Homo sapiens: one gene and its partners. The protein of the gene in region 4 interacts with the protein of the main gene of each other region in a biochemical or structural test. Each region holds a gene or a part of one and is shown on either strand. Other genes may lie near its edges. The genes, in order: RNF115, CHML, GOLGA2 and RAB1A.

What was found.
Region 1: the proteins of RAB1A (region 4) and RNF115 form a complex in vitro, tested with the Homo sapiens proteins (one study listed by BioGRID).
Region 2: the proteins of RAB1A (region 4) and CHML form a complex in vitro, tested with the Homo sapiens proteins (2 studies listed by BioGRID).
Region 3: the proteins of RAB1A (region 4) and GOLGA2 form a complex in vitro, tested with the Homo sapiens proteins (2 studies listed by BioGRID).

The regions. Positions count from the first base shown.
Region 1 is NC_000001.11:145,744,069-145,751,097, reverse strand, and holds part of RNF115 (E3 ubiquitin-protein ligase RNF115), read left to right. Parts: intron 1-597; coding exon 598-691; intron 692-2,987; coding exon 2,988-3,103; intron 3,104-4,100; coding exon 4,101-4,232; 3' UTR 4,233-7,029. UniProt on the Homo sapiens protein: E3 ubiquitin-protein ligase that catalyzes the 'Lys-48'- and/or 'Lys-63'-linked polyubiquitination of various substrates and thereby plays a role in a number of signaling pathways including autophagy, innate immunity, cell proliferation and cell death.
Region 2 is NC_000001.11:241,637,358-241,644,854, reverse strand, and holds the start of CHML (rab proteins geranylgeranyltransferase component A 2), read left to right. Parts: upstream 1-4,485; 5' UTR 4,486-4,600; coding exon of another isoform or gene 4,601-4,973; intron 4,974-7,497. Other genes in the region: OPN3 (opsin-3), read left to right, coding at 4,601-4,973. UniProt on the Homo sapiens protein: Substrate-binding subunit (component A) of the Rab geranylgeranyltransferase (GGTase) complex. Binds unprenylated Rab proteins and presents the substrate peptide to the catalytic component B.
Region 3 is NC_000009.12:128,273,008-128,280,805, reverse strand, and holds the start of GOLGA2 (golgin subfamily A member 2), read left to right. Parts: upstream 1-4,798; 5' UTR 4,799-4,829; coding exon 4,830-4,913; intron 4,914-5,309; coding exon of another isoform or gene 5,310-5,398; exon of another isoform or gene 5,399-5,450; intron 5,451-6,833; coding exon 6,834-6,956; intron 6,957-7,798. Other genes in the region: DNA repair protein SWI5 homolog, read right to left, coding at 4,051-4,219, 5,310-5,398. UniProt on the Homo sapiens protein: Peripheral membrane component of the cis-Golgi stack that acts as a membrane skeleton that maintains the structure of the Golgi apparatus, and as a vesicle thether that facilitates vesicle fusion to the Golgi membrane.
Region 4 is NC_000002.12:65,092,097-65,099,125, reverse strand, and holds part of RAB1A (ras-related protein Rab-1A), read left to right. Parts: intron 1-1,059; coding exon 1,060-1,155; intron 1,156-7,029. UniProt on the Homo sapiens protein: The small GTPases Rab are key regulators of intracellular membrane trafficking, from the formation of transport vesicles to their fusion with membranes.

The DNA of each region.
Region 1 (7,029 bases), on a different chromosome or scaffold from region 4:
TTGAAGCAGGGATTTCTGCTAGATGGAGCAAAGTAGGGGAAGGAAGCAGAGAAAAAAGTATTCCCATGCCATGTATAATTGCTTCCACTTGTTTATGTTCATTTTAATTTGATTGGTTTTTCATTTCCGTTGTGGATTTCTGAGACTAGAAAGCATGTCCTTTATATTCAGTCGTCTTATAGGCAGTAATTTACCTATTTCTTGGCTCACGTTATGCTACTTTTCATACTCTCGCTTTTTTCTTCTTCCAGAAGATGAAGCTTTTGGACCAGTTACATTTTACTTTTTATTAAGCTATAGTTTTACTCGTGACACCACAACCCTTTTGCTGCCTCTGAAGTTGCTTTATGCCTAGAGGTGGGCCTTGCAATCATGGGTTTGTCTGTAGGCTTATACGAACGTCACTCTGAAATTGTAAAGCAATTATGAGTGTTCTGGCAGCAGGAAAGGGGAAACCCAAGCCTCTCAGAGCCTTGCAGAAGTAAGAGTAACTAACATACCTAATGTCTGCACTGTTTGTTCTCAGCTGGAGCAGTTCCCTCTCCAGGGATATTGCGATGTCTGCCACTTCGTCTTTTTCTTTCTCTTTTTTTGTAGCTTTTAGGACAACTGGAAAACACAGGCCCTCCCCCAGCTGACAAGGAAAAGATCACATCTCTTCCAACAGTGACAGTAACTCAGGAACAAGTTGGTAGGTTCATTTTTATACTTATTCTGTCATCTTCTGATCTCGGTTCAAAATCCCGGTATCTTCTGACAGGTGAAAAGTTTAAAAAGTGAACAAAATAAAAAGACAAAAAAATAAGAAAAAAAATCCCAATACCTTCCTATATTAAGGACCTTTAAGTGAAGCTATAGCCCTCTAAAATTCCTATCTGGGTGCCAAATCTGGAAAGTTCCTACCCCTTTATTAGGTTAGTCAGTTGGTATTTCCTGAGCAATTATGTCTCTTTTTTAGGTGCCATTGGGAATAAAGAGGTACAAAGATAGATAAGAATTGATTGTAACAAGTTGAAGAAAAACTGATCAAATGATTAAAAACTGTGTTGGACACATGATACTGACATTGGGGAAAGGAGAAGAAAAAAATAGGCTGGGAGTTTGTTTCAAATCTACTTTGTGTCAGGTACAGTTAGGTATCTTAGTCATAGATACTATTTTATTTGTAAGCACTGGAGGAATTTAGTGACAAGGGACAGCATTTTGGTCTGGGAGTTTCTGTTCCCATCAGTTCGGGTTTAGAGTTAGAGATTTTAAAGACAAGGTGGGCTATCTTAGGTCATTCTATTTAAGGAAAAGTATGAACTAATATACGTGGTGTGTGAGTCAGGTAAAGTGGTCTTTAGGGAAGATTAGTCTAGGGGCAGTGTGTGAAACATTGGAAGTGAGAGAGAGCAGAAACAGGGATTTTAGAGTGTTGCAGCAGTCCAGATGAGGTTCAGTTGATGGTGACAATGCTAACAGAAAGGAAAGGATTCAGAAGATCATTTTGGAGAAATGCTTTCCTCACTCATTGCATAATGGGATGAAGAAGGGGAAAGAGTCAAAGAGAATTCTGAGATTTCACAGCTTTGTAACTATAAACATGGTGCTGCCATCTTAAGGGACAGGGAAATAGTGAATGGACCCTGGTTTGGGTAAGGAGATGAGGTGATGTTTTACATTTTTTAATTTGTTGATTTTTGAGGTGCCAGCTGAGAATCCAAGTGAAGAGGAGCTGGGGATTGCTGTGGAGCTGGTTTGAGGGAAAACTAAGTTGTAGCAAAGTATAGGATATATTTGGAGGGTTAAGACCGTGGAATTTGGGATACTAGCTGGGAGGCTGTTGCAGCAGACTAGGCATGAGAAGTAAAAGAATTAGGGCTAAGGTGATAGGAATGGAGAGTAAGGAGTGAATCTATTAAGTAGTAGTACTGCTCCAAATGCCTTATCTGCTGTTAGTTCATGGAGCATATCCCAGCCACTAGGCGTATAGACTAGCTGACAGTATTAGCCAAATTTGGGAAACTCAAAACTTGCTGCTTGGAGCTCCCAGTATAGTTCATGACTGTTTCTTCTCAGAGAAGAGGGCTTTCTGTCTCTTGATTTGGTGACCTGAGCTAGACTTCGACTTTGCAGTTCTGCAGCACCACTTCTGGTATAGCTTTTCTGGTATGGCTTCTGGTATTTTCTTCTTTTCTGGTATAGCTTTTATTAATAATTTTTTTTTTTTTTGAGACAGAGTCTTGCTCTGTCATCCAGGCTGGAGTGCAGTGGCGCAATCTTGGCTCTCTGCAACCTCCGCCTCCCGGGTTCAAGCAATTCTCTGCCTCAGCCTCCTGAGTAGGTGGGTTTACAGGCGCTCACCATCACACCCAGCTAATCTTTGTATTTTTAGTAGAGACAGGGTTTTTACCATCTTGGCCAGGCTGGTCTTGAACTCCTGACCTCGTGATCCACCCGCCTTCACCCTCATTAACAGTTTTTACAGAGGACTTTAGGACAGCCACACTGAAATAGGATGCTTCATCCCATGCTGAAAAGAGCATGGTGAAAGTGGCAAGTGGCTTGAGACGCTGCACTGATAAGATTGCTGAGATGAATCCCTTGGCTATGGTGGACAGATTCACAGTAGCAACTGACTGCCAGAGGGCTGTCACACATTGGGAAGATGTTTTTCCTGTTTTACTGAGCAGATCATCTAAGCCCCAGTTTATTTCTTCCAACTCTTTACATCAAAAAATAGGCCTTATATAGTTCCTATATAGGCCTTTTTGGAGTAGGCCCCATTCATCATTCCTTCTTTTCATGTCTCTGTCTACTACCACCTTTACCCTCATTTTGAAATACAAGTCATGCCTCTTAGCTGCCTGCTACTTGGGTGTACATTTTCTTTTGTCTCTTGTGTCTTTTCTTTATGCATTCGTAGGGTTGGTAGAGACATTGGGTTAGTTTTTTCTTCTTTCCTTTTGCCTGTTTACTTTAAAAGGCATTTCCTTCTTCAACAGATATGGGTTTAGAGTGTCCAGTATGCAAAGAAGATTACACAGTTGAAGAGGAAGTCCGGCAGTTACCTTGCAATCACTTCTTTCACAGCAGTTGTATTGTGCCGTGGCTAGAACTGGTGAGTACAGCAAGTCATGGCTTCTTTGGGGGATGATTCAGAGTAAAGGTATAGTTAACAGTTCCTCGAGATCCAAGTAGATCAGATTTTATCCCATAAATCCCTGGCTTACTCTGATACTGTTATTTGTTTGGAACTTTTCTGACCAAGGGTTGCAAACTATGTTCTACAGGTCATTGTGTCCTGCCACCTGTTATTGTAAATAAAATTTTATTGGAACACAGCTATGTTCATTTGGTTATAGATTGTGGCTACTTTTGTGCTACGTCAGCAGAGTTGATTAGTTGTAACAGCTGTGGTGTGGCCTGCAAAGCCTAAAATACTTATTTTCTGTCCCTTATGTATTTGTTTTGAGACAGAGTCTCACTCTGTCACCCAGACTGGAGTGCAGTGGCGTGATCTCAGCTCACTGAAACCTCTACCTCCTGGTTTCAAGTGATTCTTGTGTCTCAGTCTCCAGAGTAGCTAGGATTACAGGCGTGCACCACCATGCCCAGCCAATTTTTGTGTTTTTAGTAGAGACAGGGTTTCGCCATGCTGATCTCAAACTCCTGACCTCAGGTGATCCACCTGCCTCGGCCTCCCAAAGTATTGGGATCACAGGTGTGAGCCACTGCACTCGGCCAATTTTCCTGTCCCTTTAAACAAAAAGTTTGCTGACCTCTGCTCTAGACCATATTGGGAAGTAATGGGCAGTTACCCTCCTGTCATAGATCACTCACTGTTTCTGGTTCGTTCTGTTTGGTGGTATGTATTAGCTGTTATTAACTTGCTGGCCTAGAATTATTCCTGTCAGTTCTGCTTAAAGTTCTGTTTGGGAGATATCCTGGTATCACACCTTAGAGCCAGTGCATGCTCTATGAGGATGCATTCTCTATTGTTTTTCTGTTCCATGTCATAATTTTTGATGTGACAATTCTCAGGGTTATTTAAGTGTACAATACTCCCAGCTTCTCAGGCCAGGATCTTCACATAGACTAATATTTTTCTGTTTCAGCATGACACATGTCCTGTATGTAGGAAGAGCTTAAATGGTGAGGACTCTACTCGGCAAAGCCAGAGCACTGAGGCCTCTGCAAGCAACAGATTTAGCAATGACAGTCAGCTACATGACCGATGGACTTTCTGAAGCTAAAGACCACACCTGAATCAGGGCTGTGGTAATCATCTTACCATAGCTGTAAATTGTATCAAAACAAAAAATTAGTAGATGGATTTAGGAATATGTAAGAAACTCAACACATAATATAAATGCAATGAATGTTTTTCTTCTTTAAATTTAAAGTTAGTATCTACAGATGGAATTGTATCTACAACCAAATGCCTCTTATCCCTGAATTCAGAGTGATAATTTTATAAGTGTGAAACTTAATTATGTAGGGCTCCCCCCGTCTGAATAGAATTAATTCCTTAAAGTCTAGTTAGGGTCCTGCTGTCTGTCATGTTGCCTTGTAACGGATGTTTCCACCTCCTTCTCCAACCTCTACCCCACCATTAGTGTATTTTACTATAAAAACAGTGGAACCACAGCCCTAAAGTCCTGCTGATATAAAGTCCTTTTGTCTTAATTGTATTTAAAAAAAAAAAAAACTACTCTTGATCACATTAGCTATGAGGCGAGGTCAAATTCAGGTATCTAAGACTAATGATTTTGTTTTGTCTTGATCCCCAGAGAGCAAATCAAAGAAAAATTACAGCAAGAAGAGAAAAGTGGTTTATCATTGTGTGCTTTGGTTTTCTTATTTTAATTTTTTTTGTTTTTTTTTTTTGAGATGGAGTCTCGCTCTGTCGCCTAGGCTGAAGTGCAGTGGCACGATCTTGGCTCATTGCAAACTCTGCCTCCTGAGTTCAAGCGATTCTCCTACCTCAGCCTCCGGAGTAGCTGGGACCACAGGCATTTGTTACCATGCCCAGCTAATTTTTTGTATATTTAGTAGAGATGGGGTTTCACCGTGTTAGCCAGGATGGTCTCAATCTCCTGACCTTGTGCTCCGCCTGCCTCAGCCTCCCAAAGTGCTGGGATTACAGGCGTGAGCCACTGCGCCTGGCCTCTTATTTTAATTTTTAAAGACTACTTCAGTTGATGCAGTTTCCCAAGAAACCTACATAACATATATTGGGAGCCTTATGTTGATAGGAATCTGATTCCCATTCCTTTTTGGGAATGAGTTGGGCAGCATACAGGCACAGAAAGACAGATGTTTGAGACCTTTGCTTCTGAGATTTTAAAAAATGATTACCGCTGGGCGCGGTGGCTCACGCCTGTAATCCCAGCACTTTGGGAGGCCGAGGCAGGCGGATCACAAGGTCAAGAGATCAAGACCAGCCTGGCCAACAAGGTAAAACCTTGTCTCTACTAAAAATATAAAATTAGCTGGGCGTGGTGGTGCATGCCTGTAATCCCAGCTACTCATGAGGCTGAGGTGGGAGAATCGCTTGAACCCAGGAGGTGGAGGTTGCGGTGAGCCGGATCATACCAATGCACTCCAGTCTGGGCAACAAGAGCGAAACTCCATCTCAAAAAAAAAAAAAAAATCCCCAACTCACTGCTTTTTTTGTTTGTTTCTGTCGCCTAGGCTGGAGTGCAGTGGCACGATCTCAGCTCACCACAGCCTCGACCTCCCAGGCTCAAGTGATCCTCCCACCTCAGCCTACCAAGTGGCTGGGACTACAGGCGTGTGCCACCATGCCTGGGTAATTTTTGTATTTTTGTAGAGATAGGGTTTTGCCGTGTTGCCCAGGCTGGTCTCAAACTCCTGGGCTCAAGTGATCTGCCTGCCTCAACCTCTCAAAGTGCTCAACTCATTGTTTACTGTCTTTTTTCCTAGTAATCTTAAAATAATTTGCCTCACAGAAATAGAGACAGTAAGTGTCTGCAGCCAGTTCACTGTTTTTGGTAATTCATTGGTCTTCAGGAGTTAAGATTTTACATTGTCACATTTTAATTTTTAAGCCTATTTTTCATCTCTGAAACTTTCCTTTTCTCCTTGGTTCTGGCTATACTTGGACTCAAACTGATCAGTGTGATCATGTCCAAAACAGCTTGGCCTGGAAGAGGTAGGCCTTATTTTTTCAGCCTAGTAGTGTCCCATGCACATGCTCTTTGTAGCATTCAAGTGTTTAACATTGGATAAATTAAGAAGGTCAAGAATGTTGTTGAAACTTCAAGGTCTCAAAAGGAAATGATGGGGACATAGAACAACTGTTGGTGTACCAAAAAAAGGTACAGAGGGGCACCATTTGTATTGTCACACAACAATGATCAGAATGATCAGTTTAGAATGATCAGAACAAAAACACCACTCTTTAATGGGTCTTTTTCTTGGCTAGAAGTCTTTCCTCAGTTTTTGTTGACTATCATACGCTGATTTGTGGGTGACGGAAGGGGGCTAGAGATAACGTTTCTCTGTACTTTGGTAAAGGATGAAGGAGTCAGAGAGGGAACAGAAAAAGTGAGAGAGTGGCCTGCTGAAATAATAGCCTGCCTCTAAAAGTTGTGACCAGAAAGTATGATTCATTTGGGCCCAGAGGGAATAAAATATGTTTTTTCATATACCTCCCATATTACACCTCTGTAGTGATTGTTTATTTGGGGAATGAGATCTACTTACTGTGCGTTGCCCCTGAAATGTAGCTTGAGAATACACACTGGTTTTGAATTGGGGAGGAGGATGGAAGGAAATTAGAGGTGTATTATGAATATTTGGCCACTACTTAGATGGAGGAAGGCTATGTTGAACTTGGGACACATTGCAGTTTTCAAGTACACAATATCAGTTGTCTCAGAAAAATCATGACAGCCTGGACATATTTGCTTGTCAGTGTCTGGAGATGCCAGGACAGGCAGTTGTAGTTTTACGTACAGATAGAGAACCAATGCCTAGAGAACTAGAAAGGATCTGAGTACCTTTAAAAAGGGTGGAAAC
Region 2 (7,497 bases), on a different chromosome or scaffold from region 4:
AGGTTCATCCATGTTGTAGCATGTACTAGAATTTCATTTCTTTTAAAATATGGCTGTATAATATTCCATTGTATGTATATATCACATTCCATGTATCATTCATCTGTTGATGGGCATTTGAGTTGTTTCTATTTTTTGGCTATTTTGAATAATCCTATTATGAACATAAGTATACAAATACCTGTTTGAGTCCCTGCTTTCAATTCTTTTGTGTATATACCTAGGAATAGGATTGCTAGATCATATGGCAATTTTTTTTGTTTTGAGACAGGGTCTCACTCTCTTGCCCAGGGTGGAGCGCAGTGACACGATCACAGCTCACTGCAACCTCAAACTCCTGGGCTCAAGGGATCCTTCTGCCTCAGCCTCCTGAATAGTTGGGTGAGACTACAGGTATGTGCCACCACACCCAGCTAATTTTTTATTTTTTTCTGAAGAGATGGGGTCTTACTATGTTGCCCAGGCTGGTCATTGTACTCTTGGCCTCAAGTGATCATCCTGCTTAAGCTTCCCAAAGCACTGGGATTACAGGAATGAGCTCACAATAATTCTATGTTTAACTTTTTGTGGAACTACCAAATTGTCTTCCACAGGAGCCACACCATTTCACATTCCCATCAGCAGTACGACAGGGTTCTAATTTCTACACATCTCCACACAAAAACCAACACTTGTTTTTGTGTTTTGTTTTGTTTTTTGATGATAGCCCTTCTAGTAGGTGTGAAGTGGTATGTCATTGTGGCTTTGATTTGCATTTCCCTAATGACTAATCACAGTAAGTTTCCTTCCATGTGCTTTTAGGCCATTAGTATATTTTTGGAGTAATGTCTACTCAGATCCTTTGCCTATTTCTGAATTGGGTTGTGTGGAGTTTTTTGTTGTTGAGTTGTAGGGGGTCTTTATAATATTGATGCCTTATCAGATATATGACTTGCAAGTATTTCTCCCATTTGCTGTGCTGTCTTTTCACTCTTTTGATAGTGCCCTTTGATGCATAACAGTTTTTAATTTTGATAAAGTCCAATTTAGCTATTTTTCTCCTGTTGCCTGTGCTTTTGGTGTCATACCCAAGAAGTTTTCTTCTAAAAGTTTTATAGTTTTAGCTTTTACATATAGGTCTCCAATCAATTTTGAGTTAATTTTTATATATGATATAATGTAAGGCTCCAACTTCATTCATTTGCACATGGATATGCAGTTTTCCCAGCATCATTTGTTGAAAAGACTGTCCTTTCCTCCTTTCCCCATTGAATGGCCTTGGCATCCTTGTCAAAAATCAATGGACCATATATGTAAGAGTTTATATCTTGGCTCTCTATTCTATTCCATTGGTCTACATGTTTGTCCTTATGCTGTGTATTAGGCTGTTCTTGCACTGCTGTAAATACCTGAGACTGGGTAATTTATAAAGAAAAGCGATTTAATTGGCTCACAGTTCTGCAGGCTGTACAGGAAGCATGGTGTTGGCATCTACTCAGCTTCTGGGGAGGCCTCAGGGAGCTTTTACTCATGGTGGAAGGCAAAGTGAGAGCAGGCATCTCACATGGCGACAACCAGATAGGGAGAGAGAGAGAGAGAGAGTGGGATGGCGGAGTTGCCACACACTTTTAGATGACCAGAGCTCACTTATCACAAAGGGGATGGCCCAGGCCATTCATGAGGGATCCGCCCCCTATGACCAAAACACCTACCACTAGGACCCACCTCTAATATTGGGGATTATATTTCAACATGAGATTTGGGTGGGGACAAACATCCAAACTATATCATGCTGGTGTTTTTCATTTGTTTGTTTTTTGTTTTTTTTTTTAATAAAAGATTGTAGTGTTCTGCCATTATCCTGTCATTACATAATTCTAAAATTAAAAAAGAAACATATATCCTTATCATTGCCTGTTTCTGTCAAGCTCAATAAATGTCCTTAATGGTTCATAGTATTGTAAAATTACTGTGTCAAAAATGCTTAAGCATTTGTCAAAGGCCTCTTACTCCTCCTTTGCATTCACTGCTAGTAGGCATTGCCCTGGACTTTACTCTGATTGAGTAAAAGCCAAAGTCCTTTTATTGAAATGGCCAAGGTCCTGCATATTCTGGCCATTCACTGCACACCCACCTGACTGGCTGCATTTCCCGATTCTCATTCTTGCTTCCTTATTGTTCCTCCAACATACCAATACAGTACTCCTGCCCATAACCACCTTGTCTAAATAACAACCTTGACAGAGCAGGTGCATCACCATCATGGACAAGCACTGCCATTTTAAAGTTCCCCTTGATCAAAAACCACCTAAATCCAAACAGCATCAGCCTAATGGCTAAGGTCAGCATGACCATACACCACAAATGACATCTCCGACCAGAAACATTCCAACCCTAAGATAAACCCCTCCCTGACCAGAGACATGCGAGCCCCGAGATAACCTCCCCTCCGACAGAGACATTCCAACTTGGCAATAAACTTCTTCTCCAAACAGAAACATTCCACGCCTGTGATAAGCTCTCTCACTCTAAAATCCTTAAATACTCTTAGTCTGTAAGAGAGTGCTCCTGACCGAAATCGGCCAGAAGCCCCTCTTAGGTTTATTCTTCCAAATAACACTGTCTGACTGTTGAGCTGCTATTAGTGTTTCTTTCCTCTTTCTTTAACTCTTACAAACTCCTTGCCCCATCTCCCATAGCTCCTGGCTCAACCTCCTGAGTAGCTGGGACCACAGACATGTACCATCTTGCCTGGCTAATTTTCTATTTTTTGAAGAGTTAGGGGGCAGTTCTCACTTTGTTGCCCAGGCTGGTCTTGAACTCCTGGGCTTAAGAAATCCTACTGCCTCGGCCTCCCAAAGTGCTGGGGTTACAGGAATGAGCCACCACGCCTGACCCCTATTTCTTCATGGCATTTGTCAGTGGCTGACACCCTACGTATTTATCTAATTTTTGTTTGTTCTCCCAACACGACTGGAATGTGAGCTTTATAAGGGCAATGACTCAGCAATGAAGAATGAATAGGAAAAAATATAGCGAGTTCTTTATTCATTCATTCAAATTACTATTTATTGAGAACTTACTGTAGACTAGACACAGAAAACACTTTCGACATTAAACATATAGAACTTGTTAAATAGTTATGTTTTGTTCAGTGGTTGTACAAATCTAAAATTAACAATTAAAAGTGTGTGTGTGTTTTTTAAGGGGTGGGTGGGTAGGAAGTCTCACAGATGGCGAGTCCAGAGCAGAAGCCTTGAAGGAAAATCAAGGTGTCAAAGGCAGAGCACACTGCCCCTTAGCTATTGCTCAGTGCACCAGGGTGGAGAGCTGCTGCCAGCCTATTAGATCCTCTCTCCAGGGAATTCAGAATGTGGATTGATCCAAGCTAGTCATTCCCTACTGATCTTTCAAACAGAGGTGAGGCACGCCCGTATGGAGAGCAGTTTCTTTAGCTTGCACAAACCCTGTGTTCGTCACCAGTGTCCAGGACAGGCTGCAGGTGTGGCTGGGGACTGTGATCTTCTTGTAGGGCCTCCTTAGGGATTGTGCAACCACAAAGGCAGAAGCAGCTCTTGCAGAGTGTGATGACGTTCACAACCTATATTTGACTTGTACTATATTCTCATCACTACAGGAGAAGAGGCCCAATGGGAAATGTGTGCTGTTCTAAATATAGCACCTGCCTCCTATACCTGCTAGATTTAGGTTGAATCTTTCACTGCCTGTGAAGGACTTTAGCAGGCCTCAGTGACCGGAAAGATCTACCCACGCTTTCAAGCACAGGAAGGACGGTATTGGAAGGCCTTGGGGTCCAGCCCAGGGCTTAAAGTCAGTTCCATTGGAATGCCATTTTCAGAGAGTTTTCATCCCAGACTCTCCAAGGGTGGCAGGCTCTTGTATCAGCCCTGGGACATGTGTCCTCTAGCAGTCAGGTAGTTAGGCAGGCACCTGTCTATCAATTTGTTGTTTTTCTTCTCAGTTTTCCGGTAAGACTACCCCGAGCTCTTCAATGTTTTCTTTGCTTTTGTTTACATTGAGTGTATGACGCGGGATGGGCTTCGTAGGCTGGTTGTGGGTTATTACAGCTTCCCAGGAAGGGGAGAAACCCAATTCTTGCCAGCACGTGGTGGGCGCAGGCGCTCATAAATACTTAGGAATAAATGAATGTATAAGTGAGTGCATGAATGGGTGAGTGGACACGAAGCTTTCAAGGTGGGTGCAGGGAGGTGGGGGTGTGAAGAGCCATCGAGGCTACCCTGCGGCCCTGGCCCCCAGGCTATCCCGCGACGCGCGTCCACGCCGACCAGCGGAAGGTGCCCAGCCAGTGGGGGCGGGGCGAGCTAGCCGCGAGGACGCGCCCGCGGGGGGGCGGGGCTAAGAGGACGCGCCGGGAGCAGCGGAGCGACGAGGACAGGCCGCGGGGAGGGGCGGGGCCACGGGGGGTGCGCCGGGCGGAAGGGGCGGGAAGAGGGCGGGCCCGGCGCGCGGTAGCGCGGGCCCCTCAGTGCACAATGGCTAGAGCAGGCGGCGGAGCCCCAACCCCACCCAGTGCGGAGCGCGCCGCGAGCCCCGCCGCAAGCTGAGCGCCTCCGCCCGCCAGGCGCGCCGGCGCCGGGCCATGTACTCGGGGAACCGCAGCGGCGGCCACGGCTACTGGGACGGCGGCGGGGCCGCGGGCGCTGAGGGGCCGGCGCCGGCGGGGACACTGAGCCCCGCGCCCCTCTTCAGCCCCGGCACCTACGAGCGCCTGGCGCTGCTGCTGGGCTCCATTGGGCTGCTGGGCGTCGGCAACAACCTGCTGGTGCTCGTCCTCTACTACAAGTTCCAGCGGCTCCGCACTCCCACTCACCTCCTCCTGGTCAACATCAGCCTCAGCGACCTGCTGGTGTCCCTCTTCGGGGTCACCTTTACCTTCGTGTCCTGCCTGAGGAACGGCTGGGTGTGGGACACCGTGGGCTGCGTGTGGGACGGGTTTAGCGGCAGCCTCTTCGGTGAGTTGGACTGGGAGAAGGCAGCCTCCCCTCTGCAAACTTCCACTCCCCACCCCGCTGCCCGCTCCGTGCGTCCGCCCCCCAGCCCGCCCCGCACCGCTTCCCGCTCGGCCCCGCGCCCCCCGCCCTACACCGCCCCGCTCCCCGCTCGCCTCCTCAACGCTGCCCGACCCCAGCCGCATGGCGGGTGCCTTCCTCTTCCTCCGTCCCCTCCCGCCCCACGCTGTCCAGGACTCCATTCCTGTGGTCTCTCATCTGCCCCCCACGTTGACCCCAAACCCCGGCCCGCCTCCTTTCTTATTTGTTTTTACCTCCTAAGATCACTCAACAAGGCACGAAACCACGGCTTTTTACACTTTGAGGAAAGAGACGAGGGCCTGTAGAGTCAAGAGATTCAAGAAAAAAAGTGATTAACTCGTGAAAGTTGGAGGGAGTGATGAGATTAGATTCATGTACTACTATTTGTTTCCTAAAATGAGAGTAGAAAACCAAAATAACAATGTGTAAAAAAAAATTCTCATTAGTACTTGTAAACCTTTGAATGCTTTCTAGGGAATGAGACAGTTTCATTCAGGTCCTCAGAATGCAAATTGGCATGTGCCCTGTAAGCTGTTTTTACTATTTTCCGTCTTATAGATGGGTTCCAGCACACCAGAATCTTGGGTGAGATTACAAATGGCTCAGCCAATACCATCTCAGGTGAACAAATACTGTAATTAGCTCTGCAATCGGTAGATTTCATTAAAGTAGAACTTCATTGTTGAAGATGTATTTCGACAGTACTCTTATTATGGAAGATTTAAGTTTCACTGAGACATGATGTTTTGAAGGATGATCAACAACTCAGCAAATCATTGAAGGAAGCGTAGAAAGGAAATTATTTTTTTGTGTGCCTCAGGAATTTCATTTGTAGGGAGATTTGAAATAGAAATGTGTATTTCTCAAGGCTTAAAGTTCCTTTTTTAAATCCTGAAATCCATTGATACTTTATTGCTTTAATCTTGGTAGGTTTGGGAGAACAAAAATCTTTGTAGAATTATCAAAAATATTTTCTTATTCAGTAACCTCTATGCTATGACAAACCCAAATATTATATTTGTAATGATTCATTTTTTGGCGTTTTGAAGGAAATAAGAAAATAGATTTTATTTGATTGCTTCAGAGGTTATAATATTTTCCTCCCCGCCCCTCATAAGCTTTAATCTGATAATTTCATTTGAACAAACATTTGAAATTTAGGGAGGGGACTGCAAGTGTATGTAGGCTGTGGTATGGACGACTATGGGATTACACTCCTTATATTAATTGTAAAATACCTATCAGGCAGTTTCTTCGGCAATGCTAAGAAGGTTATTCAAGCCCAAGCCTAAAGTATCATCAGTAGTGTTCTCCAGGGTAGTCAACAGGTGTTTGTTCACAGACATCAAAGTTCTTTTTTCCTTGAAGTGCCTTTTCTGTGCTGGAAAATTCTGTTTTCGTGCCCGGGAGTTTGAACACAAGGGTGTACTGAGTTCTTTATAAGTGCTAGCTGTCATCCACCCTCTTCCTCACCTCTTTCCTCTGCTGATCCCACCCTCCTGTGTCTCCTGGTCACTTCTCCCTTCCTGTTTTTCTTCTTCACCATCCCTCCTAGGGTCCCAGCCCAGTGATTTTCTAAGTTCACTTAGATTTTTGCCTGAGGGCTGCCCTATTTTTCAGGGCATTTAGTGCTTTCAACCATGACTTTCTCCCTGTTTTTAATGTAGAGGTGGAAACCCTGAGATAAGAGATTCCGAGACTTAAGCCCTGGGGGGCAAGTTAGTAGTGAAGTTACTATAGAGTTTAAAAAGTTTTTAGCGAAGATGATTTCTTTGCCTGGAGTAAATTCCGGAGTTTGTGCTTCTAGATCCAGGTTAAGGATGAAGAAAAGGAGGGCACTTCCTGAGTTATCCCTGAGCAAGAACTACCTAACAGTGGAGTATTGAAGGGGAGGAAGTTAAAAATGAGGGAAGTAGCTTCTTGATGCAGAGGCTTTTGGAGAGGCTTGCCCTATCTGTTGGAAAGACCATTGGTCTGATGGCACAAGAGTGGATCCTGTTCCTTATCCTGCGACTCATGCATTGTGCGGGCTTTCTCAAGTCACTTAATCTCTCCAGCTATCAGTTCTCTCATCTCTATTATTGGGTAATTCAGCTTAATGCTCTGTAAGGCCATCCTACTTGCTTTGCATTTTGATGACCCCTTTGATATCTGTAGGTTAGAACGTGCCTGATCTTAGCGCTTATTGATTGTGTCTTCTGCTCCTACTCCTACCCTGAGCCCTGTCTTTCTAAGCCAAGAAGCAGCATGTACTATGGTTACACCTCTTCAGATACCATCATAGATTCAGTCTCCATCTTCACACCCTGCTGGAAGAAGCAGAATAAGTAATTCAGACATACTTATATTTATACTTGAGTGGGCCAGGCAACTGCTGCATTCTGTACTTAGTTCCTGGCTTCTTAGGGAATGCCAAAAATGAGTGGAATCCTTGATATTTTTGAGA
Region 3 (7,798 bases), on a different chromosome or scaffold from region 4:
GTGGCTCACGCCTGTAATCCCAGCACTTTGGGAGGCGGAGGCGGGAGGATCACGAGGTCAGGAGATCAAGACCATCCTGGGTAACATGGTGAAACCCCGTCTCTACTAAAAATACAAAAAATTAGCTGGGCGTGGTGGCGGGCGCCTGTAGTCCCAGCTAGTCGGGAGGCTGAGGTAGGCGAATCGCTTGAACCCTGGAGGCAGCGGTTGCAGTGAGCCGAGATTGCACCACTGTACTCCAGCACTCCAGCCTGGGTGGCAGAGCGAGACTCTTGTTTTTTTTTTTTTTTTTTTTAAAAAGAACAGATGCAACCATGAGTAGTGCTATTAGAAAGGAGAAGAGGCAGAGCACACTTCAAGAGCTTGGGGTTCCTCTGATGATGCAAGGGCAGTTGGAGGAGTTGGTTTTGTGGTCCTGGTTAGGAGGCTGAGTGTGATTTCAGACTTGGCAAGTGGGAAGGCAAAGATTCTGCAGGCAGCTCTGGGTGTCCCAAGAAAGGTCAGGGCTGGAGAGAGATAGGAGGGTTGTGGGCACTGGGGTGGGCTGAGGGAGTGGGAGTCAGAACTTGGAGCAGGTGTGTAGAAAGAGAATGGCAAGAGGAGAGCAGAGCCACCCGGAAATGTGTGGGCAAAGGATTACCCAGGTGCTGAGGCAAGAGACTGAAGGCACAAACTGTTTCAGTATAATAAAGAAAATAGAATAAGAATAGTCACAACACAAATTAGATATAGAGATGATCATGGACAATTATCAATCATTAGTATAAACACTATTAATCATTAGCTTTTAATATTACTCCTTGTTGCACTACTAATATAACCTAAGAATAACCGGCAAGTATAGGGTCAGGTGCTGAAGGAACATTGTGAGAAGTGACCTAGAAGGCAAGAGGTGAGCCCTCTGTCACACCTGCATAAGGGCCGCTTGAGGGCTCCTTGGTCAAGCGGTAATGCCAGTGTCTGGGAAGGCACCCGTTACCTAGCAGACCGTGAAAGGGAGTCTCCTTTCCTTGGAGGAGTCAGGAAACACTCTGCTCCACCAGCTTCCTGTGGGAGGCTGGATATTATCCAGGCCGGCCCGCAGTCATCCGGAGGCCTAAACCCCTCCCTGTGGGGCTGTGCTTCAATGGTCACGCTCCTTGTCCACTTTTATGTTCCTTCCATACTCCTGGTTTCTCTTTGAAGTTCATAGTAGATAGTGGTAGAAGAAACAGTGAAAGTCTTAAAGTCTTTGATCTTTCTGATAAGTGCATAGAAGAAAATGCTGACGTATGCTGCCTTCCCTCTCTGCTTTGGCTACCTAGAAGGGAAGGGCCCACTGGCCCACGATCATGTGACTTGCTTGATCTTATCAATCACTTGGACGACTCACCTTCCTTACCCTGCCCCCCTTGTTTTGTATGCAGTAAATATCAGCGTGCCCAGCCATTCTGGGCCACTACCGGTCTCCACGTCTTGGTGGTAGTGGTCCCCTGGGCCCAGCGGTTTTCTCTTTATCTCTTTGTCTTGTGTCTTTATTTCTTACAATCTCTTGTCTCCGCACATGGGGAGAACGCCCACCAAGCCCCGTAGGGCTGGATCCTACAGAAATGCCCACATTTACCTCAGGAGTGGCAGGAAGCAAAGGAGCCAGCCGAGCGGGCACAGAAAAAGAGGCAGGAGAGGTCAGGAGGGTGCTCCTGCAAATAGGCCCAGAGAGGAGCAAGCCCAAGGTACCGCTTAAGAGTTCAGTTCAAGCCCAGGCACGGTGGCTCATGCCTGTAATCCCAGCACTTTGGGAGGCTGAGGCGGGTGGATCACTGAGGTCAGGAGTTTGAGACCAGCCTGGCCAACATGGCAAAACCGTCTCTACTAAAAATATAAAAATTAGCCGGGCATGGTGGCGGGCACCTGTAATCCCAGCTACTAGGGAGGCTGAGGCTGGAGAATCACTTGAACCTGGGAGGCAGAGGTTGCAGTGAGCCAAGATCGTGTCATTGCATTCCAGCCTGGGCGACAGAGCAAGATTCCGTCTCAAATAAAAAAAAACAAAAAAAACCAAAAACAACTCAGTTTCTCAGTTTAAAGCCCCCAGCTCTGCCACGTCCTGGCTATATTCATCTCTCTGGAACTCACAGGCCTCACCTCAACATGGGGACAGTAAAGCGTCTTCTCAAAGGTTGCTGGAAGGAACTGGAAAGATGATGCATGTAAAGTAAGCTGATGGGACAATGCTCAATAGAGCCTCCTTTTTTTTTTTTTTGAGATGGAGTTTCGCTCTGTTGCCCAGGCTGGAGTGCAGGGTGATCTCGGCTCACTGCAACCTCCACCCCCTGGGTTCAAGCGATTCTCCTGCCTCAGTCTCCCAAGTAGCTGGGATTACAGGCATGTACCACTATGCTCAGCTAATTTTTGTATTTTTAGTAGAGATGGGGCTTCACCATGTTGGGCAGACTGGTCAAACTCCTGACCTCAGGTGATCCACTCACCTTAGCCTCCCAAAGTGCTGGGATTATAGGCGTGAGTCACTGTGCCGGGTCGAGCGTTGTTTTTAAAAATGGAAGGAATGGAAGCTGGGCATGGTGGCTCATGCCTGTAATCCCAGCACTTTGGGAGGCCGAGGCGGGCAGGTTGCTTTGAGCTCACGAGTTTGAGACCAGCCTGGGCAACATGGCGAAAATTTGTCTCTACTGAAAATACAAAAAAATTAGCCAGGCGTCATGGCACACAACTGTGGTTCCAGCTATTTGGGACGCTGAGGCAAGAGGATGGGTTGGGCCTGGGAGGCAGAGGTTACAGTGAGCCCAGATCGCACCATTGCACTCCAGCCCGGGCGACAGAGTGCGACTGTGTCTCAAAAAAAAAAAAAAAAAAAAAAGAGAAGGAATGAATTAGCATGAATGAGAAAGGCATGATCTGCAGTGAGTTACCGCATGGTCAAAGACAGTGGATACCAACCCACTTGCAGAGAGAAGCTCAATCAGCCCAGTGCTTTTGGCAAACTATGGCTGCCACCCCGTCATCGTCATCTGAGCTCACTGTGAGTTGCCCTTCAGGCCCTGCCTCTGACCCTGCCATCTCTGGAGAGCCCTCTTTGCAAGCCCAAGCCTGGGCTCCCCATCTCAGAACCATGTGCATACTTGTCCTGGAATTATTTTTTTGCCTGTGGCTCCTGGAGGGCAGGGGGCTATCTGGCATACACCTGCATTGCAGCAGTTGCTAAATCAATGAACAAATACCAAGTCTTTCCCGATCTAACTTCTTTTTTGTTTTTGAGACTTGTCTAGCTCTGTTGTCCAGGCTGGAGTGCAGTGGTGCAATCTCGGCTTACTGCAACCTCCACCTTCCGGGTTCAAGCAATTCTCCTGCCTCAGCCTCCTGAGTAGTTGGGATTACAGGCCTGCACCACCACGCTCGGCTGATTTTTTTGTATTTTTAGTAGAGACAGGGTTTCATCATGTTGGGCAGGCTGGTCTTGAACTCCTGACCTCAAATGATCTGCCCGCCTCAGCCTCCCAAAGTGCTGGGATTACAGGTGTGAGCCACTGCACCCGGCCCTCACGATCTACCTTAAGAGTGGTGGTAGTTGTAGTGGCAACTCCATCTGGGGGATGAGAGAAGGAGTAGGCTGCGTTTTGGGGGTGGCTTGCCAGCGAAGAGGAGAGACTATTAGCAACGAAAGGAGTGGCCAGGGTGAACGCCAAGCATTTTCCTGACTGGGGAGCTATGGGTTTGTTTAAAGGCAGGGCTGGGTGAGGGGTGAAAAGAGCGAGGAGGAGAGATGGCTGGTGCTGGACTGGAGTGAAAGGCATCTGAGGAGCCAGGAGACAGGATGGGGAGGGAGAGGAGTTAGCCTAGGACAGGACAGGATAACACTTCTTTGAAGACTGGCGGGCATGAGGAAAGGAAGGGGAGGGATTCGGGAATGACCTGGCGGTTCTCAGTCGACTGGGAGAAGATATGGAAGAGGGCCAAGCGGGGATTGGCTGCTGTTGGGATGGGGAGTGGGGCCGGGAGCGCACAAGGGAAGGTCGAGGATGGGAAAGGGGGTGTGGGGGAAGAAATACTCACAGGGGATCGGAAGGCCCCGCGGCAACTTCGGGTAAGTCTTGGTTCAGTCCTAGAGAGGAATCCGAGGGGAAAGTCTGATTGGACCCACAGCCCGCTGTGAGGACGGGGTACTGTGGGGATGCGGGAGGAGGAGCAGTTGGGAAGTAGGAGCGCCAGGGACTGGATCCATCTGGAAAGGGGGCAGACACGCTCTCAGGATCAGGGTAGAGACCCTCTAGGAAGGGGGCGTTCTGAGACGGGGGTTGTCTGGAGCACTGGATGGGAGTCTTTGGAGGTGATTTCTGGGAAGGGAGAGTCTGGGGCAGGGCTGTGAGGAGTCAGGAAAGAAACTGTGGAGTCCGTTCCTCGCCCACCTCCTGAGCCCTGGGGTCCGAGGCCCCCGGATCAGGGGGTTCAATGGCGCAAGAGGGTCCAGCGCGGGAGTCGGAGAGCGACCTCTCAGGTGCACCGGGCCAGGAACTCTGACCCGGAGTGTGAACTGGCGCACAGAAAGCTGCGCGCGCACCCAAGGAAAGCCGGCCCCGCCCCTCTCCCGAGGTGGGCGGGGACAGCGGTTGCGTGCGCAGCTTTTGTTGTGACGCCACAGGTCCCTCTGGCCACGCCGCTGCATAGCCACGCCCCCTTCCGCTTCATATTTCTCATTGACCAATGGGCTTTGATCTTTGAGGCCACGCCCCCATTCTGCGCTCCAGTATCGCCCTGGTTACGCCTCCTCTGGCTCCGTCGCACAGCTGCGCGGTGGCTGACTGACTTCCGCAGTGGTTGCCGGGATCGCGCTGATGTGGCCCCAACCCCGCCTCCCTCCCCGCCCCGCGATGTCGGAAGAAACCCGACAGAGCAAATTGGCCGCAGCGAAGAAAAAGGTAAAGTGCACCGGGTCGCGGCCCCCCGACCCAGCCCCAGCCCCACTCCGATGGCAGGACCATGGCCAGAGTCTCTGCCACTCCTGAGGCACACCGGGCTGGGCTCCCCACGGCGCGTCCGGGCTCCCTCCACCAAAGTCTTGTCAGCCAGCCCCGCCCCCTCAGCCGCCCAGCCCCCGCCCTCGCCAGTCGCCCCCGGGTGACTTTGGGCTGGTGCTCCCGGGGCTCCCCGCTCCAGACTCGGCCCTCACCTCCTGCCCCCCGAAGTCCGACCTCCCTGGGCTCTTTGGGCTGGCGTCTCCAAGGACCTAGGACCCCAGCAATTCAGCCCCTGCCCTCGCCAGTGACTTTGGGCCCGTGACTCCCGGGGCCCCCCGCTCCAGACTCGACCCTCACCTCCTGCCGCCCCAAACCGGACCTCCCGGGGTTCTTTGGTCTCGGGTCTCCAAGGACCTGGGTCCTGGCCCTGCGGTCCCCTCCCCCATCGCGGAGCGGCGACTTGGACGTCGCGCTGATGTTCCCCCTAGGAGTGGAATGTAGTGACGTCACAATCCCCCTCGGAACCGTAATTAGTTGCGCGAGACCAGTCTTTGATCTTAGGACCCAGTCCCCTAAGTGTTCTCATCCCGCTTCTGGTTCCTCTGGTCACAGCATAAATTTCCAGCTGGAAGGGGATTGGGGACTATGGGACCTAGGAGGGAGAGGTTTCAGGCTGCCTTACACCCTTAACATAGACATTGACAGTGTGAAAAGCCTACACTTCACCCGTGAACTGAAAACATTGGCAGTATCTCTGGGTGGCAATGTGAGAACGGGATTGGTTTGGTTTTCCCCCAGGCTTCTACTCTCCAGAGAGACTTTAACATTTTTTTCTGACTTCTCCACCTCATATTCGAATTCTCCATGGTTCTGGGACCAGAGTGCCCTTCAGTGGTCTCTGGAATGAGATCTGCTTATCTTCTGTGGAACAGGTCTTGGGAAACTGAACTTGACAGCTTGAATCTTCCTCATATCATCTCAACCTGGGGTACTTGGAGTGCCACAGGATAAATACGGGGCATCTTTCTGAAGCATCAGTCTCCCTTTATTCTCTTGAGAGAGAAAAAACATTAATGTACTTAGGGATGACAGTCACATAAATTTCTAAGAGTATACCAGACTTTTCTCTGAAATGAGGCTTGGGTTGTCCTCTTTCTGTTAAATTCCCAGGTTCAACAGAAAGGCTGCCTTCTGCCATGTGGATACATTGATGTAAAAGTTTGAGAGGCATTGGTGCATTTCTTAACATTACCAAACGTGTGAGGATGTATGACTCTAAACCACACAGTGTACAGTTCCTGCCGACTTAATGTTCCGGCCCACATTTTAAGATACATATTTATTTTTAGAGAGGGGGTGTCACTGTGTTGCCCAGTCTGACCTTGAACTCCTGGCCTTAAGTAATCCTCCTGCCTTAGCCTCCCAGGTAGCTGGGACTCCAGGCTTGACTTCTCCACCTCATATTTGAATTCTCCTTGGTGGAGTGGAATGTAGTGATGTCGCAGTCCCCCTCGGAACCGTAATTAGTGCGTGAAACCAGCTTTTGATCTTAGGACCCAATCCCTAAGTGTTCTCATCCCGTTTCTGGGATGAGAGGTGGAAAAGTACCTCTGCCTCTGGTTTTGGCCCCTGGCAGCTGCTGATTTGTGGCAAAACCCCAGAGCTTGGAGTCAGAAGACTGAGTTTAAGTTCAATTCTTGCCTTTTTTAAGCCATGGTATCAATCCCTCTCAGTCACTAAGTGATTGTGACAAGAACTTGTGGAGTTGTTAGTGGCATTAAATCAGATGGTATATAAGAGTATTTTGGAAAAATTGTAAAGTAGGATGTAACTGTGGGGGCTTGTAGATCTCATGAATATTATTGCTCTTCTTTTCCACAGTTGAGAGAATATCAGCAGAGGAATAGCCCTGGTGTTCCTACAGGAGCGAAAAAGAAGAAGAAAATAAAAAATGGCAGTAACCCTGAGACAACCACTTCTGGTGGTTGCCACTCACCTGAGGATGTGAGTCTTGGATGGCCAGGCTCCTGGGGACAGGGGGCCCAAGGGGCAGTAGAGGGTAATTGTTATGATTGTGGAAGAACTGTTGGGTACTGATTAAGAGTTCTGGGTTTGTATCCTACCTGTCCATCTGCTAGGGATGTGATTTAGGGCAAATTGCTTGAGCTTTTTGGGCCTCTCTTTTCACAACTATAAAGTATTGTTTTACTTACACTTGTGAAGTTTAAATGAGATTTGTTATTGTTGTTTTTATGTTAATCCCTAGTACAGGGCCTGCTGTCCTAAACACCCAGGACACCCAGGAAATGGTAGTTGCTGTTTCATTTTCCTCATCTCCAGTCTCAAAGGGAAGCCAGGCCAATGAGAACAGCTACTTGCCATCAGGCTATCCCTTTAGGAGTCACTGAAAGGGCCCCAGGGTGTGGTGAGGAGAGTCCCAGGTGCTAGGATTAGGGGAAGATCTAACTTTTGAGTTCATCTTTGCCACCAGCTTGCTGCGTGACCACAGAAAAACCACTTCTTCCCCTGGGCCTCAGTTTCCTCCTCTGTGAGGTGACATTGGATATGATCAGTGTCTTTCAAACTTGTTTTTTAGCTGGAGCCCCCTTTGTTCAAGTGAACCCTTACTCAGAAGTCTGGTTTTTAAAATGGAGGTGGAGGTTTGTAGTTCTACTAGATTCATTGCCCACATCCTGGGCCTAAGGAGAAGGGTCCAAACAGGATATTAAGAGCTGCATTGGTCAGGTGACTCCACTCTGTGTGACTGCATCGTTCAGGGGACTTTTCCATCTATTTGTTTCTGCCCCTGGCAAGGCAGCAGGTGGCCATTTGGAAGGATGGCACAG
Region 4 (7,029 bases):
GTGGCTCACACCTGTAATCCCAGCACTTTGAGAGGCTCAGGCAGGGGGATCACTAGAGGTCAGGAGTTTGAGACCAGCCTGACCATCATCACGAAACCCTGTCTCTACTAAACGTACAAAAATTAGGCAGGCGTGGTGATGCACGCCTGTAGTCCCTACTACTCAGGTGGCTGAGTCATGAGGATTGCTTGGACCCCGGGAGACAGAGGTTGCAGTGAGCTGAGATCATGACACTGCACTCCAGCATGGGCAACAGAGCAACATCCTGCCTCAAAAAAAAAAAAAAAAAGAAGTACTGTTACATGGTACAACATGGATGAACCTTGAAAACATTCTGCTAAATGAAGGAAGACAGACACAGAGGGCCACATATTTTATGATTCCATTTATACGAAATGTCCAAAATTGGCAAATCTAAAGAGAAAGTAGATTAGTGGTTGCCAGGGAGTGAAGACGGGTTCTTTCTGGAGTGAAGAAAATGTCCTGGAATTCGTGGTTGTAGTTTGCAACCTTGTGAATGTATAAGGACCACTGAATTGTCCACTTCAAAAGGGTGACTTTTATGTTATGTGCATTATATCTAAAAAAAAAAATCATAATTAGGAAGCAAGATTGACTTCTAAGAAAAAGCGGAGTGAAATTGTTGTTTTGTGGTGAATAAATTGGGTGGGTGGGTCGCAAGAGTTTTGCTGATTAGTGATTAGAAAAATTATTCATAATCATTGAAAATATAAAATATTTTTCTATATGATGTATGTAAAGAATTTGGCAAGAGATGATGTTTGGAAAAAATAAAGAATGGCTATTGTAGAGATCTTAAGGAAAGAAACTACAGTTAAGTAGTGCTTTGTAATCAGAATATGAAGTAAGTACTGAAAGTGGATGGAGTGGCTGTTGTCAGCATGTTATACTTTATACATTTCATTCATAAATTTGGACTGTAGATAAAAGTAAACTTTTTTTTTATTTACTCTTGAACAACAGTTTTTTTTTTTCCACTTAGACTTGCATCTGCTCCACTGAACAATACATTTAATTGTTAATTATTTCCCCCTTCAGGATGATACATATACAGAAAGCTACATCAGCACAATTGGTGTGGATTTCAAAATAAGAACTATAGAGTTAGACGGGAAAACAATCAAGCTTCAAATAGTAAGTGACTTGGCTAGTAATTTTTTTGAAATTTATTTTGGTAAATTTGTAATGTATTGTTATTTTGTATATATTTACTATGCTAACAAAATTGAATGTAAAATGTCTTAAGATTCATGTACTTAAGATAGAATGGTAGAATAAGAATTACTTAGATTAAAAATAATATTTTCAAGATTACTTAAGCCTCATTGAATTTTCTATTCATGAAGCAGAGAAACTCATGTTTTAAGTCAAACTTGGTCCTCATCTTTTTCTTTTATCAGTGGAAATCTAAGTTCAAGTTTACCTTGTCCTACACTGCAAATGTTATAGACCATTTTTGTTTGTCTTTTACTGTGCTAAGTGCATGGAACATTAAAGGAACCCTAGGAAGAGATTCTTCATATGTGGCTCAGTTGAAGAGAAGTACTTATGTAGTTCTAAGTATTTTTATTAGATAGTGTGCACCAACTCTGTAGAAACACAGAATTTTGTTGGAAAAAGGAACTTAGTTTTTGTAACATGTTCATTTTACTGCTCAAAAAAACGAATGCTGAAAGATTTAATGACTTGCCTACAGTTACTGGTAGAACCAAGTGACCGAAGCTCTGTCTTCAATATTTTGTGTCTCTGTGCCATCCTATCCCCCTTATCCATCTTTACACCCCCAGCCCCCAATTAAATATAGGCAATTATAATAGTTCAGTTGTGCCTCTTCAGTATGGGTCTGAGTCCTGTCAGTGTGGGCATATCTGTGGTCTTTTAAAAAATAAATCTCTCAGTATTTTTCAGAGTAGGCTATTAGCAAGAAGTAGGCTATAAACACAGGAAACCAGTGACTGCCCCTTTTCATGGAACTGATGACACATGGAATTGGAAGGAGTCCTGCATTAGGAGTCAGAAGACTTAGATTTGTTGTCTTGGTTCTAGTATTTACCTGTTAGAGAATCATGGGTTTGTGTCTCTGGGGAAAAGGCCGAAGTAACCCTGAGACCCAGTTTCCTTTCTAAAATGTGTGTGATGACACCTGATTTACTAATTTATAAGCTAGTTGTGAGAACCAACTGTAATAGCTTTGTGTATGTGACAATACGTGTGAAAGCCCTTTGTAAACTTTTGGGCAGCATATAGATACTACTTATGATATGACATGCCCAGATAAATGGGTGTTTGATAGGTTAAGTTGCTCCCTTTTCTTACATGACTCTGATGAGGAAAAGAAGGTATGTTAACAAAAGATAGGTGGCTGTGGATATTGATATAAGTAAACACACTTGATGTGTCAAATTAGGACTTGCAAGGATTTAGTTTTCAGAAATAGCTTGAAATACTTTCAATCAGTGAACAAATTACCCTCCATATTTTTTCCCACGATATAAGTACAGTCTCAACCTTTTATTTGGCACCATAAAGAGCACATAAAGATCTACCCAAAACTGTACTTTAAAGCACTGGTATGGAATAATTGTATTATGTGTGATCATTGGTGTTTATAAGATTTGGGTGTGTATTCGTGTGTGAAACATTCATATTTTGTTACTTTCCTGTGGCTGGAAGGGATCTTATAGGACACTGTCTTTCATCTTTGTCTGTCTTTCATCTTTAATAGGAATTTCTTTTCCATGCCTGAAGGCCTCATTTTGAACATTTTGTTTGTTTGTTTTTTTATTTTTTGAGATACAGTATTGCTCTGTCTCCCAGGCTGGAGTGCAGTGGCGCGATTTGAGCTCACTGCAACCTCCGCCTCCTGGGTTCAAGTGATTCTCCTGCCTTAGCCTCCCTAATAGCTGGGATTATATGTGTGTACCACCATGCCCGGACAATTTTTTTTTTTTTGAGATGGAGCCTTGCTTTGTCGCCCAGGCTGGAGTGCAGTGGTGCAATCTTGGCTCGCTGCAGCCTCCGCCTCCCAGGTTCAAGCAGTTCTCTTGCCTCAGCCTCCTGAGTAGCTGGGATTACAGGCGTGCGCCACCACACCCTGCTAATTTTTTGTATTTTTAGTAGAGACAGAGTTTCACCATGTTGGTTAGGCTGGTCTCGAACTCCTGACCTCGTGATCTGCCTGACTCGGCTTCCCAAAGTGCTGGGATTACAGGCATGAGCCACTGTGCCCAGCCTTCCGATAATTTTTGTATTTTTCGTAGAGATGGGATTTCGCCATGTTGGCCAGGCTGGTCTCAAACTCCTTACCTCAAGTGATCCACCCGTCTTGGCCTCCCAAAGTGCTGGGATTACAGGCGTGAGCCACCACGCCTGGGTTTTTGAACATTTTTAAGAAGCTTACCATTTTTTCGAAATAGCTAGTTCCATTTTACACATAACTTCAGCTAGGCATGTTGCCTCATGCCTGTAATCCCAGCACTTTGGGAGGCCGAGGTCAGAGAGTCACTTGAGGCCAGGAGTCAACATAGCTCCTGTGACCAGCCTGGTCAACATAGAGACTCTATCTCTACCAAAAAAAAAAAAAAAAAAGTAACCAGGTGTGGTGGTCCATGCCTGTAGTCCTAGCTCCCCAGGAGACTGAGGTGGGAGGAATGTTTGAGCCCAGGACTTCAAGGCTGCAGTGAGGCAAGATTGCACCATTGCACCCCAGCTTTGGGGACAGAGTGAGAGACCCTGTCTCAAAAACAAAATAAGGCTGGGCGCAGTGGCTGTCCGGGCGTCGTGGTTCACGCTTATAGTCCTAGCACTTTGGGAGGCCAAGGTGGGCAGATTGCCTGAGCTCAGGAGGTCTAAGACCAGCCTGAGCAACATGGCGAAACCTCATCTTTGCAAAACATACAGAAAAAAACAAAAAAAACCACAAAACCTCTAGTTGCCAGTTATTTTTTTTATTTATTCCTAGTGATTCTTCTTTTTTTCTTTTTTCTGAGACAAAAATTTCACTTTGTCTCCCTCGCTAGAGTGCAGCGGTCAGCTCACTACATGATTCTTTTAGAGACATGTTAATTCTTTATATTGAGCTGAAGCCTGTTTCTTTTACTTCTGTCTCTTCTTATTCCTCCGCCTTGTAGAGCTGCCTGAATCAGATTAATTCCTCTTTTATTGGCAAGCCTGCCCTTCAGATTGATCTTATCACAACCTTTCTTCTACCTCTGAAGTCCTCATTCTTTCCTGTAATGATATTTTCAGAACCTTGTGCAATTTGGGTTATTCTTACATTTTATAAATGCCTTTTATTAAATTTGATTTCTTAAATCAAGTATGAGATATAACACATGAGGTAAATCCTGTCTTGATTTGGAGCCTGAATGAATTTCTCTCTTGAACTTCAAGGGCTCATGGCCCTTTCTTATTATTAATCAAAGACAACCATTTGTTGTTTCAGTAGCTATATTATTTCTAGTTTGGGTCTTAAGGTTTTTGATTTGCTTGTTTTTTCTTTTTTCTTTTTTTTTTTTTTTGAGACGGAGTTTCGCTCTTGTTGCCCAGACTGGAGTGCAATGGCGTGATCTCGGCTCACTGCAACCTCCGCCTCCCAGGTTCAAGCGATTCTTCTGCCTCAGCCTCCCTAGTAGCAGGGATTACAGGCATGTGCCACCACGCCGGGCTAATTTTGTATTTTTAGTAGAGATGGGGTTTCTCCATGTTGGTCACGCTGGTCTCGAACTCCCGACCTCAGGTGATCCGCCTGCCTTGGCCTCCCAAAGTGCTGGGATTACAGTCGTGAGCCACGGCGCCTGGCCGATTTGCTTGTTTTTAATTAAAATAGGGGCCTTGGCCAGGTGCAGTTGTTCACCCCTGTAATCCCAGTACTTTGGGAGGCTGAGGCAGGCAGATCTCTTGAGTTCAGGAGTTCAAGACCAGTATGGGCAACATGGTGAAACCCTGTCTCTACCAAAAACACAAAATTCAGCCAGGCATGGTGGTGTGTCCCTGTAGTTCAAGGTACTCAGGAGGCTGAGGTGGGAGGATTGCTTGAGCCCGGAGATGGAGGTTGCGGTGAGCCAAGATTGTGCCATTTGCACTCTAGCCTGGGCAACAGAGCGAGACCTTGTTTCAAAAAAAAAAAAGAAGAGGGTCTCACTTTACACTTCTGTGACTGGTGTTTTAAAAATCTAAACACAGGCCGGGCACGGTGGCTCACGCCTGTAATCCCAGCACTTTGGGAGGCAGAGGCACGCAGATCACAAGGTCAGGAGTTCGTGACCAGCCTGGCCAGCATGGTGAAGCCCATCTCTACTAAAAATACAAAAAAATTAGCTGGGCATGGTGGCAGGTGCCTGTAATCCCAGCTACTTGGGAGGCTGAGACAGGGGAATCACTTGAACCCAGGAGGCGGAGATTGCAGTGAGCCAAGATTGCGCCATTGCACTCCAGCCTGGTGACAGAGCGAGACTCCGTCTGAAAAAAAAAAAAAAAAATCTAAACACAAGATTTTACTTTTAATCCTATCATTTCCTCTTGCTTGGCTTCAGTAATCCTTCAAGTTTTCTAGGTCTTTTCAAAATCTTGATTCTGTTGATTTATATTTTAATTATCTTTTCCTTTCAGCTTTTCCTGTTCAGGTGTGACATCTGGGTCTTTATCTGAGTTTTATTAGATTATAAAACATTCAGCAAGATAGGGCAGGTACTGAGTCCAGTTGTACACCATGGAAGGCCTCTTTCTGTGATTGTTCATTCATGAGGCTTTATGAAAATGTCTACATTACACCAGGCACTTGGAGGTTACAGAGATGAATAAAACATAGTCCATTAGGAGGCAGACAATGGGAGAGACAAACATGGGAAAAAGTTACTCTGATTATGAGGAGTAATGAGAATTACATATGAAGGAAAGTATTGTTAGTACTGTTAGGATTTAGTGTCAGGAAAGTTTTCAGAGTAGCAAGGAAACATCAGAAATTTTACTCTTTCTGCCAGGCATGGTGCATGTATTATTCTGTTCTCACACTGCCACAAGGAACTGACCAAAACTGGGTGATTTATTAAAAAAAAGGTTTAATTGACTCATAGTTCTGCATGGCTGAGGAGGCCTCAGGAAACTTACTGTGGCAGAAAGGGAAGCAGGCACGTCTTACATGGCAGGAGGCGAGAGAGTGTGAAGGAAGTGAAGGGGGAAGAGCCCCTTATGAGACCATCAGATCTTGTGAGAATTCATTCACTATCACTTGAATGGGGGAAACCGTCGTCATAATCCAATCACTTCTCCATAATCCAATCACTTCCCTCAGTGATTACAACTTGAGATGAGATTTGGGTGGGGACACAGAGCCAAACCATATCAGTGCCTGTAGTCCCAGTTACTTGGAGGCTGAGGCAGGAGGAACACTTGAGCCCAGGAGTTCAAGATCTGCCTGGGCAACATAGCAATACCTCCATTTTGGATAAAAAGGAAATTTTACTTTTTGGGTGCCATTGCTTACTTTAATCAGCTGTAACTTCTTGTTGACTTTTAGTCAAAAAACAATTTTTCCTTCTATCTTTGTGAAAGAGGTTGGTGAGCAAGGAAGAAAAGGAAACTTGCTTTATTGAGCAGCTTCTATAGTCAGGCACATTTTACAAACATTAGTTCATTTAAACCCCTTTAGCTGTTGTACAAGGTGAATGCTATCTAGCATTTACAGATGAAGAAACTGTTAGGTGACTCTCCCTAATATTAAATAACCAGGAACCTGGATTTGATGTTTTGAAGTCAGGGTAGCTTGATCCTCGAGTTCATGCTTCCTCCAAGGATACACTGAAAGACTTTGAGCCTCTTTTTTTTTTTTTCTCTTTTTTTGAGACAGGATCTGGCTCTCTTGCCCAGAGTGCAGTGGTGTGATCTCAGCTCACTGCAACCTCTGCCTCCTGGGCTCAAGCGATTCTGCCTCAGCCTCTCGAGTAGCTGGGACCACAGGCGCACGCCAGCATACTTGGCTAATTTTTGGATTTTTAGTAGAGACAGGGT